Linked DNA regions of Homo sapiens: region 1 is linked to region 2. The links come from fine-mapping of genetic effects on plasma protein levels. A gene starts in region 2. The other region holds a variant in brackets. All regions are shown on one strand. Distances are between the middles of the regions.

Region 1 (10,442 bases), 27 kb before region 2:
TTGTGCCTTTTCATCAAGCTATCTTTTACTTCTGCCATCATCTCACTTTCTACATGACTTTTTCAAACTTTCTCCCCTCTCCTCAGTCCTTCAACTTGTCTCCCACGATAGCCCTCCACAGGGGAAATAAAAAACACATGACATGAATGTGCTTATTCCTGCCACAAATTCACTTTTCCTAGCCAAGGGCCATCCCTTTACTTATGGCACTGGTCCCATCTCTTCTTATTTTTTCAAGAATCTTCTACAATCTGTTATGCAATATTTTCTCAACATCTTCCACCTGGTTCTTCATTCTAATGTAATGTAAACATGCTCAAACTGTTCAAATTTCTCCCATTTTATTAAAACAAAAATCTTCTTTATGTATTTCTTTTTTCTTTCTTTTTTTTTTTTTTTTTTTTTTTGAGATGGAATCTTGCTCTGTCGCCCAGGCTGGAATGCAGTGACTCAATCTCGGCTCACTGCAACCTCTGCCTCCTAAGCTCAAGCAATTCTTCTGTCTCAGCTTCCTGAGTAACTGGGATTACAGGCTCATACTACCACGCCCAATTTTTGTATTTTTAGTAGAGACAGGGTTTCACCATATTGGTCAGGCTGGTCTTGAACTCCTGACCTCAGATGACCCACCTGCCTCAGCCTCCCAAAGTGCTGGGATTATAGGCTTGAGCCACAGCGCCCGGCAGACCTCCTTTATTTCTATCCCTCCATTCACTGTCACACATATTGGCAAGCTCACTACATTCATATTTCTGATTTTTTGTACCTTACATTTATTCCTCATCCTACTCTCGTCTCAATTTCCTACTGGATGCTCTTTCTTTCAAGGTAATCAATAATAACCAAACAGCATTTTTAGTCCCCATCTCTTCTGCTTTTCATTCAAATAGTTTGGCCATTTCTTATCAGTTTCCTTTGTTGTATCTTGTCCTATTCCCAAACACTAAACTTTGGTGCCTCAAAGCCCTGAAGTAGGCCTACATCTATCTTCACCCTGAAAAACTCGTCTATTACCTTAGTTTTATTAAACACCTACTGACTTATGACTCCAAATTATGCCTAGTGCTCTGTTCTGATACCCAGGCTTATGTAACTGTTACAGATTGAGCTACCCAGGGAAGTCAGCCTTGAGATGGAAATTAGCAGACAAGAGGACTTTCAGGGAGTATTCTTGGGCTTCACACCTGGGGAAGGGAAACGAAGGAAGTCAAAAGGGAGAAGTTGAGTTGCAATGTCATTTCAACCAGAGGCCCCAGTCAATACTATGAGGAACTCAGAAGCTGAAATTACTCTTTAGAACTGTCCTGAGTTTGGGTGAGGAGCCTTTTCTTTATAAGTCCTGTTGATCAATCATTAGTGTAGGCCAACCTGGGAAGAAGCTATGACCTTAGGGAAAGAGGCTCCCTTAAGCTGAGGCAACCCCTTTTAGGGAACTGATAAGTGAGAGCTCCCAGTAGCTGGAAAAGTAAGTCTTTGTGTTTCTGAAGGAAATCTAGGTGGTTCATCAAAGCATCAACCATAAGAATCAAGTGCTTCCTCAAGAATCACTTGAACCTGGGAAGAGAAGGTTACAGTGAGCTGAGACGGTGCCACTGCACTCCAGCTCTGTCTGGGTGACAGAGCGAGACTCTGACTACAAAAAAAAAAAAAAAAAAAAAAAAATCAAGTGCTTACTTAGTCTTTTCACTTTCCTATCTCACAGATACCTCAAAAGCACATTTCCAAAATTATTAATAAAACTCTTCATGCTAATCCCCACTCCCTCCCATTGCTTCTCCTTGCCATTCTTCCTATCATATTTAGATAGCCACTTAGTCAAGCCAAAACCTAGGAGTCCTCCTGAACTCTTTTCTCTGCCTCACTGTCCCCCACATCTAATCAATTATCATTATAATGATGTCACATCCTAAATATCTTATTTCAGCCTATTTTGTACCATCCTGCTGCTGCCACCGGTGTAAGTGACTACCTTATCTTTGCCAGATGACTGCCTCGTTTTCCTCAGTGATTTCTCTTTGCCCACACTTTTTGCCCTTCAGATCAGTCTCTCCATATTACAGTCAGTGATGTCTTTTAAAAATTCCCAGTAAGCATCGCATTCTATTTAGTGACTTCCAAAATCTTTAATTTGACCTACAAAGGCCTTCACAATCAGGGCTCCAACCTCTCCAAGTTTCGCATACTCCTCTCTGTCCTTCACTCCTTTCCACTCAATCCATACTGGGTTTTTATTAGCTTCTTGGAAATGTCATGTTCTTTGCTGTATTTCATGTTCTTTCTCTACATGAATTCTTATCATTTCTCCCATCCAATCTCAGCCTATATGTCACTTATATATCACTTCCTCACTGAAGACTTTTTAAACACCCAGTACTAGGCAGTATCATCTGGTGTTTACTGACAAAGATGGTGTCTTTGCTGCCATGCCTTATTTTGTAAGGATTTGCTTATATCTTTCTTCCGCTCCGAGAGACAAGCTCCACAAGAGCAGAAACAGTCTGTGTCTTATTCATTGTTTTATTTTCAGTGCTCGGTGTAATGCCTAGCATAGAGTATGAGCTTTGACTTTGCAAATGCCATTCCTTCTACTTGAAGTGTGTTTTCTAGTTTTGTAAACCTCAGATTTACTTTAACTTTTTTCCAAGAAGCTTCCTATACCACATTCATACAAAAAAAAAAAAAGGTTAAATACTACCTACTTTGTGCCACCACTTTACTTCGTACATGCTTCCACTGTTGCACTTTTCAAAATTTTTATTTCTTTAGCATGTGGAGTTTACTTTGAGCTGCACTGCCTAAATAATTTTTTATCTCCTCGCAACATATAAAAATCAGTGCATTTCACAATTAACAAATCAGAACATATGGCAATACTGGATACAATATTCCCCCATGACAATTATTCACCTTGAGCGAAGTAGTTGTCCAGGTTAAACAGTGCATGCCATCTCCAGTTCACTAGAAATATCACTAGATAAGCCACAATCATCACCCATTTTGAGTCTGCAATCACTAGTACAAGTTTATCTCTTTTACTAAGTAAGTAGTTTTTTACTTTGTGAGTTCTTTGAAATAACGAGGTGAATTTTAATCATTTTGAATCCTGTACTACCCAGCATGTTCCCTGGGATATAGCAGGTGCTCAATAATGTTATTTAATTGATAGATTGGGAAATTTATTTAAAAAGATTAATGCTTTTCTGTTGATATTTAATTTTAATTAAATTTCCATTTTTATGAGATCCACTGTGGGAACCTACTACAGGAGATTAATTAAAATAATGAATATGAACTCAAGGACAGTTCTGAAATATACATGTTTAACATTGAATGAATTAATACTTATTTAATCCACAGAGTTAGGTCAGCTGTGGCATCATTTCCAAAAGAAGCTATTTCATACCCAGCAGTAGAGAATTGTACATTGGGCATTTGAGAATATCATCGTAATGAGAAACTAAGATCTTGAGTTAGAAAAACTGAGTAGTTTCTAGAAAGGAAAACTCGTTCTAATACCAACAACCAATCCTAATCGGGGTCCTAGTATCTGGGTACTAGTGCTATTACATATGCTTATGAATGAGCTGAAATAATTAGAAGTATAACTCTCACTTCAAATGAAAAAGTGACAGTGTTGCTGTTTCATGTCTCTAACAGACCTTGATAATACTGACACTCATTTTTTGATGCTTGTAGAACTCTCTTATTTCAGATTTTGTAGTCTGCATAATTCCAAAAATTATTTGATATAAAAAAAGACTTGAAAGTGTAAAATGTAAAAATGCCAAGAGTCCTGGGAGGCCAAGGCGGGTGGATCACATGAGGTCAGGAGTTCGAGGCCAGCCTGGTCAACATGGTGAAACCTTGTCTCTACTAAAAATACAAAAAAAAAAAAAAAACCGTAGCGGGCGTGGTGGTACACGCCTGTAATCCCAGCTACTTGGAAGGCTGAGGAAGGAGAATTGCTTGAACACGGGAGGCAAAAATTGCAGTGAGCCAAGATCATGCCATTGCACTCTAGCCTGGGCGACAGAGCAAGACTCTGTCTCTAAATAAATAAATAAATAAATAAATAAAATTAAATAAAATTCCAAGGGTCATTCTTTCTTTAATTGTGTCTCTTTAACAATATTTGAGCACATGTTCAAATATGGTAGTACACCACCTCATAAACAATTTGGTTATTAACGTTGTAGCAAATATTACAGTTAATTTTAAAAGTTTTTTACATTTAGAAAGTCTGAAGGGCAGTCTCTTCTGCCTTTAATAAGGCAGATCCTCTAATACAGCATATAGTTTCTTATCTCTAGTGTGTTTGGCCCTTTAATAGTGACATAAACTTTGAATTAAGGGTAACAAAAGCCTTAATATTAATAAAGATGATGACGAATGTGAATGTGAAATTTTTGCACATACAGTATATTGAAAACAACTATATAGTCTAGTCAATGGGCATTAGGAAATGAAAATATGATGTGTAGATTAATTTGTAACAGATGGAAGACATACAAAAGAGATTAAGTTCTACATCAAATCATACAAACTAAAAATTAGACATTTATTGGTTTTCATTTATAAATAACGAAATGTTCAGCACAAATAATTTAGATTCAAATATTTAAGCAAGGAAAAACTCCGAAGTTTTTAACTTATTTCCTCAAAATTATATTTTATAAGGAATTTCATGATGTATTGAAATATGACTCCTCTTTCTGCCATTCATTTCTATGTTCTTAAGGGTTCTTGATAAGACAGAGTGCTTGAGGGGAAAAAGAGAGATTTTTGAAATAAGCATCAATTGCAGTCAGGTGTTAATTACAATCTCAGCCTTTCAATTTTTCATATAATGAGTCATTGTTTTTATTAAGTACTAATAAGAATAAATGATCTTACTTAGTAAATAATACCACCAGTTCCCTTTTAAAAATGCAATATTATTTACTACACTACTCATGATTTTTTAAATATTTTCTACGTGTTTACCTTTTTCTCTTAAAAGTGAGAAATTCATACTGTACCAAAACATTTAAATAGCATATAAAATTTTTTCCACCCTGATGCTACCACAATTAGAAATAAAAATAAAAATTTTTCCCACTATTGTGTGTCTTTTAAATATTTTTTTACTAGAGTGGTCAAAGCATCTAAAAAACTGACTTTATGTAGTTCATACAGTTCATTGTTTGCATTTTTTAAAACAGGACCACATGCACTTTGCCACTACTTATATTTTTAATATTCTTAGTTGAACAAAAAATATAATTTCCATTTTTTATATATAGTGTCTTCAAAAAGGGTTAAAATTGTGATCCTACAAAATGGTTTACATCATTTTATTATACTTTTTTAACATTTCTCTAAGAAAATTGTTAAATTATTTCCTGTAAGTAGCAGAGGATATATTTTTTAAACTGTCATATGAGGAAACACTTTAGTATGTAATTTCCAAAAGTTACACAAAAATGTGGTCCTGAAAATAAATACCACATTTTCCAACCTTTATTAGTAGTGCTTGAACTTATATTGAGAAGTAGGAGAAAGTGTGATTTTTGTCCTTATCACAGAACATATAGGTTAATTTTTGCACATTGAAATATTGCACGTATAAATTGGTTTATTTTTCCATTTGCCAAAGTGTCACAAATATCAAATGGCAAACGTTGCTTTCACTTCAGACAATTCAGAAGGCCTGTTGAATTGATTACCACTTCCAGTTGTTTGTTTG[G/C]TGTAAAAAAAATGAAGAAAATATTATTATTTTTTCTTTGCAATTGCCATAAAGTATGAGTGGTATAGAACATAACATTTCTGAAATGTTGAATAACAATCTGACCAAAAAAAATAATCTGACCAAAAAAAAAAAACTTCTTACCTTTGTCTTGGAATACATCTTGGATATTTTAACTGCCCTCTGTCACATTGCATTCTAAGTATAGATCCAGTAATATATAATTCAGCTGGATAAGTATCTCCTCTACAAATAAACTCAATATATTCACCATGCAAAATGTGTGGTCTATTGTCAAAATCCCATTTCAGAAGTAAATTATTCTTTTCCATTTCAGTAAAAGATAATGTGCATGGCTCTGGGAACAACAATTTAAAAAAAAAGAAAGAAAAAGAAGAAAACTATCTTGTTACATCTTGGTAAGAACAGGAATCGTTGTGTTGCCTACTCATGAGGACCTTAAAATTCTCAGGCCTAAGAGCAGCAAGTCAGTTAATCAGAATTAATATTTGAGTCAGAAAATATGTTCAAATCTCACAGAAAACAGTGAGCCATTTCTCTCTGTGGTCCTGGATTTGGAGAAAAGGTATTTTCTTCCAGTTTTAAAAACTAAAAGGTATTTTAGTTTTATGTCATTAGCTTTTTCAAAGATAGCAAACAAACAAAAAGGTATTTGGGGGGAAGCATTGACAGTTACTAATGGTCATTGATATCATGCTCTTTTCCCTTTTCCTTCTTCAGAAAGTTCAAATAAAATTCTCATGAGACAAATTATTAATTGCTGTATAAATAACATTTTATGGAAATGTAGATTCTCAACACTGACCCAAGCTTTATAACCTCATGCCATCCAAAATGGTTGACAGTTACTTCTCTTTCAAATTTCTAGTTAAGAAATATCAAGACTGGATTAAGACGTTTTAAATTCTAAGCATACAAAGTATAGTTGTGTCCTTTCCCATGTATCGTAAACCAAAGAGAATGGTAAAGTATGTATTAAAATACACAAAAAAACCTCTTCGATTTTTTTTACAGAATAAAAACATTAATATTTCTAAAATATCAAATATCAAATTATTTCAGAAAATGGGATTTCTTATGTCCTTATTTGTCTCCTGGATGACCTAGCATTAAGGAATAACTTCTGAGACAGGTAAAAAGGTCCAGAGTTGCTAATATGGCATATCAATCATATACCTGTAGTACATTAACAAACTTACTTACAGTATGCCCCTCCCTGATTGCCTACAGGGGATACATTTCAAGAGCCCCAGTGCATGCCTGAAACCGCAGATAATGCTAAACCCTGTTGTCATTCTTTTGGAACATGTTTCTGTTCATGTCTTCTGCCCACAAATTTAATGCCTCTTCCACCTCAACTAAACATTTATTATACACTGTGGCTTGTAACTTTTGCAGTTTGAGGTGCAACAACGAAACTAGCATGGATTTCTTTTTCCTTCTTCACACTTTCATAGACAGAAGACTCATTGTTACCATGGATCTTAGCAACCTCAGCATACATTTATTTTTCCTTTCTTTTTAAGTTAAGAATTTCCGCCCTTTCACTTAAAGGAAGCACTTTACAGCTTCTTTTTAGCATATCTGGGGCAGGAAGGATGGAATGGCATGAAATTTTATTATACTACTAAGTGCATAATTTAAAATTTATAAGTTGTTTATTTCTGAAATTTTCAATTTAACGTTTTCAGACTGCAGTTTATAGCAGGTAACTGAAACCACAGAAAGTGAAACCGCAGCTGAGAGCACTGTGTTCAGTTACTTTCTTCAACAACTACTTATTAAATGCCTATGTGTCAAACATTATGCTGGAAGTGCTACAGGTGATGAAAATGAACAAGAATTATTACACTCATTACAAAATAGTTGTGAAAATGAAGTCGAATAGCACTATAATTTACGATGTCACTGTTCTACAGAACATGAGATTTAAATTAAAATAAATTTAAAAGTTGATTCATGGACCTTTAACTTTCAGCTATGACAGAGGAGATTATATCAAACCAGCACTTCTATTAAGAACCAGAAAATCTGAAAAACAGGAAGCATTTCGAGGTATCAGAAAACCTCCAAGGAACTTAGTCAAGGAAGTAAGGTTCTGGAAAAAATGTATTCAGGTGAGTTCAACATCTATGTGAGGCTGGGCGTGGTGACTCACACCTGTAATCCCAGCACTTTGGGAGGCCAAGGCGGGCGGATCATCTGAGGTCAGGAGTTTGAGACCAGCCTGGCCAACATGGTGAAACCCCATCTCTACAAAAAAAAAAAAAAAATAGCCGGGCATGGTGGCATGCACCTGTAATCCCAGCTACTCGGGAAAGCTGAGGCAGAAGAATCTCTTGAACCTAGAAGGTGGAGGTTGCAGTGAGCAGGGATCGCACCACTGCACTCCAGCCTGGGCAACAAAAGGAGACTGTCTAAAAAAAAAAAAAAATTCTATGTGCCATTTTTTTCTCTTGAGGTGTTTGTTGACTCTAAGTCTGACCTGAGAGGTTAGATGATAGAGAATGGTAAGCTTAGGCATACAGCCAGCAGAACTTCTGAAAATCTCATGGAGTTGAAGATAGAAAAATGAGAATTTCGGTAAACCAAAGCAGCCAGGACTTGAAGAATAAAGAATTTAGAAGGATAGGAAGTGTAGAGATATGAGTTTGAGGCTCTGCACTAGCTTTTCCCTAAGGTACTGCTTATCCTTGACTTGTATAGAGGCATAGGATGAGAAGCCAAGCAGAAAGTAAATAAAAAGTTACAGTGGGCATTTGGCAGTCTCCCAGTAATATCAGAGACAGTCAAGGAGAAAAAGCTTTAATACACACAACAAACCCTCTGTAAAGAGCCCTGGAGAGTTACAGTCTGTGAGAAAAGGCAAACAGAGGTCTGAAAACAAACATAGAGAAAGCTTTATTTCTAATTGTATTAAAACCAACTGCCTCTACACTAATCATCAGCCAGAGGATGAGATGAGTCTTCTTTGGAGTAAGCTGACATCATCCAAACATCCTGAAATTTTCCACGTATAATATTTGGAATTCAATCAACTGTTAACAAAAATATCAAGAATTTGGGGCTAAAAAATAGATCCAGATATTGGAGTTTGCAGACAAGCCTTAATAAAAAGTATGAATTATATGTTCAAGAAGTTGATGTTAAGCTAGGATCTTTCATCAGATAACTCAAATCTACAAAAAGAAAATATAAAATAGAAATGCAAAGATGATAACTGAAATTGAGAACTCAAAAGATGAGTTTAAAGCAGATTGGATACATCTAAAGAGAGGATTGTTAAACTAGAAGAAAATTACCAAATAGAAACAAAGAAATGATACAATGAGAAAATTACCAAAAAATTACTACAGTGAAACAAGAAGAAAATGAGAGAAAATATAGATTTAAAGAGACAATGGCATAGCAAAAAGATGTAATATATGTAATATGGCATCACAGAAGAGGTGAGAAATGTACATTTTAAAAGATATTAGCCAAACATTTCTAAAACCCATGAAGGATATCAAGTACATCAAGGTTCAAGGAATGCTACTAACTTGAAGAACAAAATGTACAAAGAGAGTCTCATTGTGTTGCACTGATCTCCCTGGGAGCTGCAGACCGGAGCTGTTCCTATTCGGCCATCTTGGAACTAACTCATATATATATATATTTATATATATATAGAGAGAGAGAGAGAAAGAGAGAGAGGGAGAGATTTGTTTCTGATTTGTTTCTAAGGAACTCCAGCCTGGGCAGCACAGTGAGAAATGGTACACTCCTGACCAAATACTGTGCTTTTCCCAAGGTCTTAGCCACCGACAGACCAGGAGATACCCTCCCTTGCCTGGCTCAGCAGTTTCCACGCCCATGGAGCCTTGCTCACTGCTAGCTCAGCAGTCTGAGATCAACCTGTGACACGACAGCGTTATGGGGGGAGGGTCGTCTACTATTGCTGAGCAGGGGTTACAATCCTAGTCTCTGATAAAACAGACTTTAAACCAACAAAGATCAAAAGAGACAAAGAAGGCCATTACATAATGGTAAAGGGATCAATTCAACAAGAAGAACTAACTATTCTAAATATATATGCACCCAATTCAGGAGCACCCAGGTTAATAAAGCAAGTCCTTAGAGACCTGCAAAGAGATTTAGACTCCCACACAATAATAATGGGAGACTTTAACACCCCACTGTCAATACTAGACAGATCAACGAGACAGAAGGTAAATAAGAATATCCAGGACTTGAACTCAGCTCTGGACCAAGCAGACCTAATGGACATCTGCATAACTCTCCACTCCAAATCAAAAGAATATACATTCTTCTCAGCACCACACTGCACTTATTCCAAAATTGACCACATAACTGCAAGTAAAACACTCTTTGGCAAATGAAAAAGAACAGAAATCACAACAAACTGTCTCTCAGACCACAGTGCAATCAAATTAGAACTCAGGATTAAGAAACTCACTCAAAACTGCACAACTACATGGAAACTGAACAGCCTACTCCTGAATGACTACTAGATAAATAACGAAATGAAGGCAGAAATAAAGATGTTCTTTGAACCCAGTAAGGACAAAGACACTACGTACCAGAATCTCTGGGACACATTTAAAGCAGTGTGTAGTGGGAAATTTATAGCACTAAATGCCCACAAGAGAATGCAGGAAAGATCTAAAATCGACACCCTAACATCACAATGAAA
Region 2 (10,442 bases):
ATGGATTCAATTTAACACTGACTCTCTTTGTATTTACTAATTTTAGTTCTTATAGTAATTTCTACCCCTACCACATCTACTTCTAGATAGGTTTACTAGATATATCAACCACAATAGCCATATTCAACATCCTCTTTTAAACGAAACTGGCTCAACCAAAGCCCCTTACTCTGGGTCACCTGCCCTAGTGGAAGATCATTGATAGTTTGATGATAGTGTAGCCTGATATAAAATAATGAAATGAGTCAATTAGATTACCTTCTCACAACTTTGAACTCAAACTTTCAATTCAAAATTGAAAAACACATTTTTCAATGGGTATCATGAGAGAAGTTGGCACATGAAGAGAGATGAGTCTTACAAATGATAAAGCATTAGAGTAGCAATCTTGCCCTTCCAGAGGCCAGAGTTTCAAGCATTTTTCTGGCATCTTATGCTTAATTATCAAAATAAGTTTCTTGTTACTTAAAGTAAATTACCTCTCTTTGCCTTGCAATATGATAATTTCAGTTATTACCCTATTCCCTTCAACAGAGTATTATTAAAAACAGATACAGAAAATAACATTTTAATGTAAAAGCATTATTTACTGGATTTCAAATTATGCCTTCATTTTGTAGAAAGACAGATTGCTAGTGATTTTGTTCTTATCTACTAAAAGGTTTAACCGCTTTCCATTTTTATTGGACCCCTATTTTTATATACAAATTTCTTTGAGTATTGAAACATTGAGTGACATATCCAGCTGACTTACTGAAGCACCTTGGCTCTGGAGACCAGCCTTCTGTTGTACACGTGGTTTGCTCTTCTTGTCTTCCACTTTCAGTGGTATAACCAGCCAAGCAGAAAAATGACAATTTTTTGTCTATGCTCATTGGAAAGTAAAAGCTTTTAAAAGTATAGTAATATTGGGCAATTCTTCCATTTTCCACATGAGGAAAACCACAGGGTTTCTCTGAAATGAGTAAATGTCAAGCTGAAAATGGAAAAACAAATCTAAAAACATAAATTTGTAATCAGGTGACAATACAAACTAAAAGTTTTTAGAGACACTTCAACTAGTACTTATTTTTCTTACTTAAATTTTTAAGGTACTTTTGTGACAACTCAAGCAGTCCTTTTATCATAATTGATCTGCAAATGACTTTAAACATCCAACAGTCATGATAAAATTTAGCAGACCACTTTTTCAGGGAAGCTTTGCATAACTTCGTAGAACAGTACTTTTTTTTTTCTTCCTAGACACAGAGTCTTCCTCAGTTATCCAAGCTTCAGTGCAGTGCTGAAATATAGCTCACTGCCACCAGGAGCTCCTGGGCTTAAGCAAGCCTCCTCTCCTGTAGCTAGGACTGCAGGCACATGCCACCACATCTGGCTAATTTTTGTTTTATTTTTTGTAGAGATGAGGGGTCTCACTCTGTTGCTCACGCTGGTCTCAAACTCCTGGACTCAAAGGATCCTTCTGCTTTGGCCTCCCAAAGCACTAGGATTACAAGACTTGAACCACTCCACCCTGCCTGCACTTCCTAATAGATATGTATTGTAAGTCACTTATGTAATTTAAAAATTTCTAATAGTCACATTCATAAAAATACTAAGGAACAATTGAAGTTAGTTTTAATAATAGGTTTTTATTTAACCCAATATATTGAAAATATTTTACATTCTTTTTTTTTCTAACTCTTTAAAATCCACTACATATTTATACTTACAGAATATCTGATCTTGAACTAGTGACATTTTAAGTACTGTCTCCAATAGCTATATGTGGCTGATGGCCACTGTATTGGACAGTACAGTTCAGGAATAGGTAAAGTTTCTCCTTAACATATGCTAACTCATAAAAAATTTTGAAATAAATAGCATTAAAAGAAAAAACAGACAACCAAGTAAAACAAAGCAATACTTGGCAAGAACTTGGCAAAATAGGATATTTAAATGGTTAGAGACCTGGTACTTAGCATTACTAGTCATCAGGGAAATGAAAATTTAAACCACCATGAGATACTACTGCATATCCAATAGAACTGCTGAAATGAAAAAGACAAGCTATCTCAATGATTGTGAAGAAGTGAAGAAACTGGAACTCGCATATTTCTACAACTGAAAGTATAAATCAGTCCAAACTCTATGAGAGAACACCTTTGCAATATATATTGGGGTAAAACATGTACAAACCATATTACCCAATAAAAAAAGCACATATTTGTATACCAAAAGACATGGAAAAAAATGCTTATAGTGGCAGTATTCATATAGTCCCAAACTGGGAACAATCTAAATGCCCATAAATAATAGAAAAGATAAACACATTTTAGACTATGCATACAATGGAATATTATCCAACAACAGAAATGAACAAATGGTGAATCTCATAAACATAATATTGAGTGAAAGAAGCCAATCACATATGAATTAATGTATACATTTGCATAACTTTTTAAAAGAAAACAAACTAATCCATGATAATAGAAGTCAGAATGGTTACCTTTGGGGTTTAGTGCCTTAGAAGGATCATATTTCTGGGGTACTATCACTGTTCTATATCTTGATCTGGATGGTGTAAAATTTTGTAAAAACTATATAAGTGTATCCTGTGATTTTTGCATTTTTCTGGATATGTTATACTCCAAATAAAACATATATTTTAAAAATATATCTTTATGTTGAAGATCTTAAAGTCATAAAAACACTTAAAAGAAAGAAATGCTCGAACAATCCTAGGAGCTGTGGTGGGAAGAAACATGGGCAGTCATGGATGGAAGAAGGCCTAGATCCAGTGTGATTACTACGGCTTCAATGCCTTGGTTGATCACTGTATACCTTAATGCTACTATGAGACATAAAATACTAGTAGTGCTAGCCTAGGTTTGAAGGAAATGGATGTGGAATGATGAGCAACAAAACTTCCACTATCTGATGGAGCAGACAGAAAAACATGGGCTGGATAGTCCCCATTCCTTGAGAATTATTCTCACCATTTTTTCACACCCAAGCACCAAAGGAATTTACAATAAAAAGAGTCTTCCAAAATAGCAGTGCAATGGTGAATACACAAGAAATTTCCCTGAGGGGCACAGTTGCTTGTCAGGGAGGGGCAGCAAAGTATTCTCTGCACAACAATCCTAGGTTGTGGCTTTAAAGACTCTCTGTCCTGGGACATCTCCCTCCACCACCAGGATAGGCACATTATTTGTTAAGGTAGCTGGAATGCCTTGGAGAATATGAATTCCTGACAAAAAATTAATGAGAAATGTGAGGAATATACTAATCACATATAAACCAGGAAATCACAGATGTCTGAACATATTAAAAAAAGTACATGAAGCGATGGACACACTTACTACTGATCAGAGAATGGTAAATAAATAAAAATGGGATATCACTTTATGAATAACCATATAGCAACCAGTACAAAAATGGACAATATGAGGTGTTGGTGAGAATGATGAGGAGCAACAATTTACATCCTCTCTCAGAGATGATATACTTCAAAACTGCCATTCTGCAAAAGTAATCTCTCATTACAGAAATCAAGTACAAGAATAGACTCAATAATGCTATCTGTGAGTGAATACAGACTGATGACATTCTTACAGAAAGATAAGTTGGTTATATTACAATATTCATTCCAGAGCTATTTGTGGTTGAGAGAGCTAGAGTAACATGTTAAAACATTGTAGTAGGTCCCAGGGGAAATGGACTTCAAGATTAGGAATAAGGGGATAAAATGTGTAAGTAAAGCAAGAGTGAGACCTTTCATAGGCCAATAATACTTGCATACCATGAAATGAGAAACACAATTAATTCAATTCTTGTCCCTGAAGTGCACAATGGGAGTTGAGAGAAGCATGCAAAAATAAAATCATTGTCTTGGTCTTCAAGCAGCTTACTTTTTTTTTTGTTGTGTAAAATAGCATTATAACCTTATAATAATTAGAAAATTAACTAGAATATTGCAATGTCTTTATGGTATAGATAACAGACAATTATATCTGCTGGTATTTCCCTATTTAGACAGAAAAATAAAATCAAAAGAAATTCATGCAAAAATCATCCTATTATAGAATTAAAAGTATAAAATAAGATTAATTCTGTGTCTTTCACTTTTATAATTTTAATTATAGATGTTTTGGTAGAAAATTTATAGTTAACTATTCAACTAAAACACAGTTAAAACTTATGTATTTAATTTCAACAAATTCCCAAAAATGTTTATTTTAGAAAAGCTGTATTGCTGTAGCTTCCTTCTTTGTATGTTCACTCTTGCTAATGCTAAGTGTCCTCCCTGGATTCTTCATCCTATGGCCTGATAATATTGATAATGTTCCTGAACAACATACCCATGTACACTGCCTAGCTTCCACTCGCACACTAATCTTACACATTGGGCAATCTGACTATAAAGCTTTCTAATAGGGAGTCCATAGGTATTGGTTTGTTTGGAAAGTCCTGATTTACATGTGTTGTCCAAACAGTTATTAATAGAGCCCCTCTTTTACTCTCTAAGTGTCCCTGTTTGTACAAGCAATTATATGGTTCACCTACTAATCACTACTTAATGTCTCCAACAAATGAATAATTCATTGTGATAAAAATCAAAGTCTCAAAAGTAAAAAATATTTATGGCTATTTCCTTTTCAAATTTCCCACATTAAACTCTCACCTTATGAACAGAATTAAAATTGTACAAGTTTTGTCAGTATTAGGAATGGATTCTAGCATAAATTTAGAATTAAAGTTAACATGTGACTTCGAAATGGACATATTGTTAACCTGAAAACCTTTTCGAAGTATTTAGATCCTGGTCTCCTATGCCCCCTAGAGATACAAGGGTTTTTGTTTTGTTTTGCTTTTCTGACTTATGCTACTGTAAGAACACTTTACTAATTTTGCTCAAAGGAAAAGGTCTAAATATTATAAAAAGTTATATTTATAAAATATGTTATAAAATTGATAATGAAAATAGAAGAGTATATTAAAACTTGAGTTGTATAAATATTAGAATCTCCATTTGTATGTTTTAGAGAATAAAGAATATTAAGAATTAATTTTACCTTCTGCATAGAGTTCTCCTGAGATTATCAATATGATGATAAAAGTCAGGTTTTTCAACCTCATCTTCAGTGGTGTGCTTCACAAAGATTTTAACAATTCTAAGCACTAGGAACTTGTCATTAAGTACACAATACTTCTCTTGAGGAAAAAGTTAATAATTTATAACCTCTGTCTAAGTCCTTTTGTAACGAGTCTTATATTTCACTTAAAATATTTTGAAATAATGTTAAAATAACACAACTATATTAATTGACATTACTTACCATGTCAGAGTCCAGTAAGAGCATGATAACTGATTAGGGCAACAATAGCAGCAGAATAAATAATAAATTATAGCAGCAGAATAAATAATACTAGGTAAATTTTCAACCTAAGTTCCCAATTGTAAATTCATAGAGTAAAGTTCACTTGAGGCCATAGATCTTTACTAATATTGATCAGGTAAAAAGATGAACTTAGGAACATGAGATAACAGATACCTGATGTTGAAATATGTTGTTGCCTAGACTGCACTCCTTAAAGAGATACAGAACCATAGTTGTCTCAATGATAGAATAGTATTACTTATAATAGTAGTGTTTGACATTTAGAGAGTTTTTACTTTGTGGCAGGTGGTGAGATCAGCACTGTGCTATATCAACATTCATTCATGAGAAATGTTTAGAACGTCCATGATAATGGCAGCACATGTAACAGTTTTGAGGTATTTAGCAGTGAAAAAACTGGATTAAAATTATTGCCCTCATGGAGTTTACATTCTAATGAGTTTTAATTTAAAATACAAAATAGGAAAAAATGGTGGATAGGAGGCAGGACTAACTTGCAGCTCCCACTTGGATGGACAGAGCAGGATGTGGAGACTCGCATTGTGAACTTTTGCTCCAAGAACTGCTGCAAGGATATAACAGGAAAGCCAAGATAATCCACAGACCCTCTGAAGAAAGTATATTGCTCCTGCATGACCCAGAAAATAGCCCACATACTGTGAATGCCCAAACTGTGAAAAGTGTGAAAGGGGTATTGTCCACCCCTGAACACACACCCTTGGGGAACCTGAAGGTCTAGATCACAGGAGAAGGATTTGACCTTACCTGGAGCTCAGACAATTTAGAGAGCTGAGCGAAATACAGGGGTAGAGGAAGCAAAGGGTAAAGCCCCATCGTCTCTGTGGGTCCCCAGAGAAGCCATTTCTGACTTGTCTCACAGGGGCTGCCGGAGGAACTGGGAAAAGACCACAGGGAGAAGGAAACCTCCAGCTGAACTTAGTAACAATTCCAACCGAACACAAACTTTCCTGTCCAGAACTCAGGAAAGGGCGTGAATCTGGTGTGCAGACTTAACAGGTAGGGAGGCACAAAAGTCTGGCTTGCATTCTCAGCTGGGAGGCTAGTAGCCTGGGGCAAGTTCTCAATCCTGCTCCCCTACTGCCTGGAAACAAATTCGGTGCTTTTTGGGGGAACACAGTAGAAGTGAGATTTGCTTGTTGGGTTGTGTGAGAGCTGGGTGAGGTCTGTAACTGCCAGCTTTCCCCCACTTCCCTGACAACCTGCATGACACAGAAGAGGCAGCCATAATCCTCCTGGGAAGGTAACTCCATTAACCTGGGAATCACACCCCCATTCCCCACAGAGCCACAACAAGCCCCACCCAAGAAGACTCTGAGCTCAGACATGCCTAACCCTGCCCCCACCTGATGGTCCTTCCCTACCCACCCTGGTAGCTGAAGACAAAGGTCATATTCTCTTGGAAGTTCTAGTGTCCCACCCACCACCTGATCCTCCCCTATATACCACAGCTGATGCTCTCATGAAAGCACTACCTCATGGCAGTGTGTCTGGAATTGGTTCCTTCCAATGGGTTCTTGGTCTTGCTGACTTCAAGAATGAAGCTGCGGACGCTTGCGGTGAGCATTACAGTTTTTAAAGATGGTGTGTCCGGAGTTTGTTCCTCTGATGTTCAGATGTGTCCAGAGTTTCTTCCTTCTGGTGGGTTCCTGGTCTTGCTGACTTCAGGAGTGAAGCCGCAGACCTTCACAGTGAGTGTTACAGCTCTAAAAGATGGTGCGTCCGGAGTTGTTTCTTCCTCCTGGTGGGTTCGAGGTCTTGCTGACTTCAGGAGTGAAGCCACAGACCTTCGCGGTGAGTGTTACAGCTCATAAAGGTAGTGCAGACCCAAAAAGAGAGCAGCAGCAAGATTTATTGCAAAGAGCGAAAGAACAAAGTTTCCACAGCCTGGAAGGGGACCAGACCAGGTTGCTGCGGCTGGCTCGGGTGGCCAGCTTTTATTCCCTTATTTGGCTCCGCCCACATCCCGCTGATTGGCACATTTTACAGAGTGCTGGTTGGTCTGTTTTTACAAAGTGCTGATTGGTGCATTTACAAACCTTTAGCTAGACACAGAGCGCTGATTGGTGTGTTTACAATCCTTTAGCTAGACAGAAAAGTTCTCCAAGTCCCCATTCGACCCAGGAAGTCCAGCTGGCTTCACCTCTCAGCAGGAGGCCAACCAGCACCAAACTAGTGCATCAAACAACTACAACTAAGGACCCTCACAGAGTTCCTTTCACTCCCCTGCCACCTCTACTGGAACAGGTGCTGGTATCCATGACTGAGAGAACTGAAGACAGTTTACATCACAGGACTCTATGCAGACAACCCCCAGTACCAGCCCAGAGCCTGGTAGCCCTTCTGGTGGCTAGATCCAGAAAAGTAATAATAATCACTACAGTTTGGCTCTCAGGAAGTCACATCCCTAGGAAAAGGGGGAGAATACTACATCAAGGGAGCACCCCGTGGGACAAAAGAATCTGAACAGCAGCCTTGAGCCCCAGATCTCCCCTCTGACATAGCCTACCCAAAAGAGAAGGAACTAGAAAAACAATTTTGGTATTATGACAAAACAAGGTTCTTTAACACCACCCAAAAATCACACTAGCTCATCAGCAATGGATCCAAACCAAGAAGAAATTCCTGAACTGCCAGAAAAAGAATTCAGAAGTTTGATTATTAAGCTAATCAAGGAGGCACCAGAGAGAGGTGAAATCCAACTTAAGGATATCAAAAAAATGACACAAGATATGAGCGGAGAAATCTTCAGTGAAATAGATAGCATAAATAAAAAACAGTCACAACTTCAAGAAATAAAGAACACACTTAGAGAAAAGCAAAATGTACTGGAAAGTCTCAGCAATATAATAAAACAAGCAGAAGAAAGAACTTCAGAGCTTGAAGACAAGGTTTTCGAAGTAATCCAATCCAAAAAAGACAAAGAAAAAAATTTAAGTGAATAAAGCCTCCAAGAAGTTTGGGATTATGTTAAATGACTAAACCTAAGAATAATTGGTGTTCCTGAGGAAGAAGAAAAATCTGAAAATTTGGAAAACATATTTAGGGAAATAATTGAAAAAAAAAAACTTCCCTGGCCTTGCTAGAAATCTAGCCATCCATACACAAGAAGCTCAAAGAACACTTGGGAAATCATCATAAAAATATCATTACGGCCGGGCACAGTGGCTCATGCCTGTAATCCCAGCACTTTGGGAGGCCGAGGGAGGTGGATCATGAGGTCAGGAAATCAAGACCATCTTGGCCAAAATGGTGAAACCCTGTCTCTACTAAAATACAAAAAAAAAAAAAAAATTTAGCTGGGCATGGTGGCATATGCCTGTAACCCCAACTACGTGGGAGGCTGATGCACGGCAATTGCTTGAACCCAAGAGGTGGAGGTTGCAGTGAGTTGAGATCGTGCCACTGCACTCCAGCCTGGCGACAGAGCAAGACTCCATCTCAAAAAAAAAAAAAAAAGATTATTGCAGCTAAGTGTGGTGGCTTATGCCTGTAATCTCAACACTTTGGGAGGATGAGGTGGGCAGATCACGAGGTCAAGAGATCAAGACCGTCTTGGCCAACATGGTGAAACCCCATCTTTACTAAAAATACAAAAATTAGCTGGGCGTGGTGCCATGCCTGTAGTCCTAGCTACTCAGGAGGCTGAGGCAAGAGAATCACTTGAAGCCAGGAGGCAGAGGTTGCAGTGAGCTGAGATCGCGCCACTGCACTCCAGCCTGGCAGCAGAGCGAGACACCATCTCAAAATAAATAAATAAATAAATCTTCACCTAGGCACATAGTCATCAGTTTATCTGAAGTCAAGACGAAAGAATCTTAAGAGCTGTGAGGCAAAAGCACCAGGTAACATACAAAAGAAAACCTATCAGATTCACAGCAGATTTCTAAGCAGAAATCCTATAAGCTAGAAGGGATTGGGGACCTATCTTCAGCCTCCTTAAAAAAAATAATTATCAGCTAAGAATTTTGTATCCAGAAAAGCTAGGCTTCATAAATGAAGGAAAGATACAGTCTTTTTTAGACAAACAAATGCTGAGAGAATTTGCCACTACCAAGCCAGCACTACAAGAACTGCTGAAAAGAGCTCTAAATCTTGAAACAAATCCTGGAAACACAACAAAACAGAGCTTCATTAAAGCATGAACCTCACAGGACCCATAAAACAAAAATACAGTAAATAAATAAATACTTAAATAAATAAAATCAAGGTATTCAGGCAACAAATAGCATGATGAATGGAATGGTACCTCACATTTCAATACTAATGTTGAATGTAAATGGCCTAAATGTTCCACTTAAAAGATACAGAATTGCAGAATGGGTAAGAATTCACCAACCAACTATCTGCTGCCTTTAAGAGACTCACCTAACACATATGGACTCACATAAACTTAAGGTAAAGGGGTGAAAAAAGACACCCCATGCAAATGGACACCAAAAGTGAGCAGGAGTAGCTATTCTTATATCAGACAAAACAAACTTCAAAGCAACAGCAGTTAAGAAAGACAAAGAAGGACATTATATAATGATAAAAGGCCTTGTCCAACAGGAAAATATCACAATCTTAATTATACATGTACCTAACACTGGAACTCCCAAATTTATAAAACAATTACTACTAGACCTAAGAAATGAGACAGACAGCAACACAATACTAGTGGGGGACTTCAATATACCACTGCACTAGATATGTCACCAAGACAGAAAGTCAACAACAACAACAACAACAAAATGGATTTAAACTATACCCTGGGACAAATGGACTTAGCAGATATATACAGAAGATTCTACCCAACAACCACAGAATATACATTCTATTCATCAGCACATGGAACTTTCTACAAGATAGACCATATGATAGGCCACAAAATGAGCCTCAATAAATTAAAAAAAAAAATTATGTCAAACACTCTCTCAGACCACAGTGGAATAAGGTGAAAATTAACTCCAAAAGGAATCTTCAAAACCATGCAAATACATGGAAATTAAATAACCTGCTCCTGAATGATCATTGGGCCAACAATGAAAGATGGAAATT

Direction of the effects. Positions count from the first base shown, and alleles are read on the strand shown. Strength reflects both the effect of a copy and how common the allele is.
In carriers of allele C in region 1, the plasma level of the protein whose gene starts at base 5,158 in region 2 tends to be lower than with G alone (strong association).

The links. A credible set is the group of variants that fine-mapping cannot tell apart. PIP is the chance, under the fine-mapping model, that this variant and not a neighbour inherited with it causes the effect. The UK Biobank Pharma Proteomics Project read protein levels with antibody pairs (Olink). The fine-mapping took linkage between variants from a reference panel, not from the people measured, so its PIPs are less certain.
Region 1: its variant is the best candidate, but not a certain one, in a credible set for the plasma level of the F13B protein (UK Biobank, PIP 0.61).

What each region holds. Positions count from the first base shown.
Region 1 is chr1:197,034,653-197,045,094 of GRCh38, forward strand. F13B (coagulation factor XIII B chain) reads right to left here. Exons shown (of 12, transcript NM_001994.3): 11 at 5,870-6,083; 12 at 4,089-4,759. The coding sequence ends at 4,726. Among named protein-coding and RNA genes, the nearest start is that of F13B, 27 kb to the right of the region's middle. The variant G/C (reference allele first, on the strand shown) is at 5,726.
Region 2 is chr1:197,062,103-197,072,544 of GRCh38, forward strand. It overlaps F13B (coagulation factor XIII B chain), which reads right to left and starts at 5,158. Exons shown (of 12, transcript NM_001994.3): 1 at 5,058-5,158; 2 at 755-955. The coding sequence starts at 5,121. RefSeq lists an enhancer at 6,266-7,465.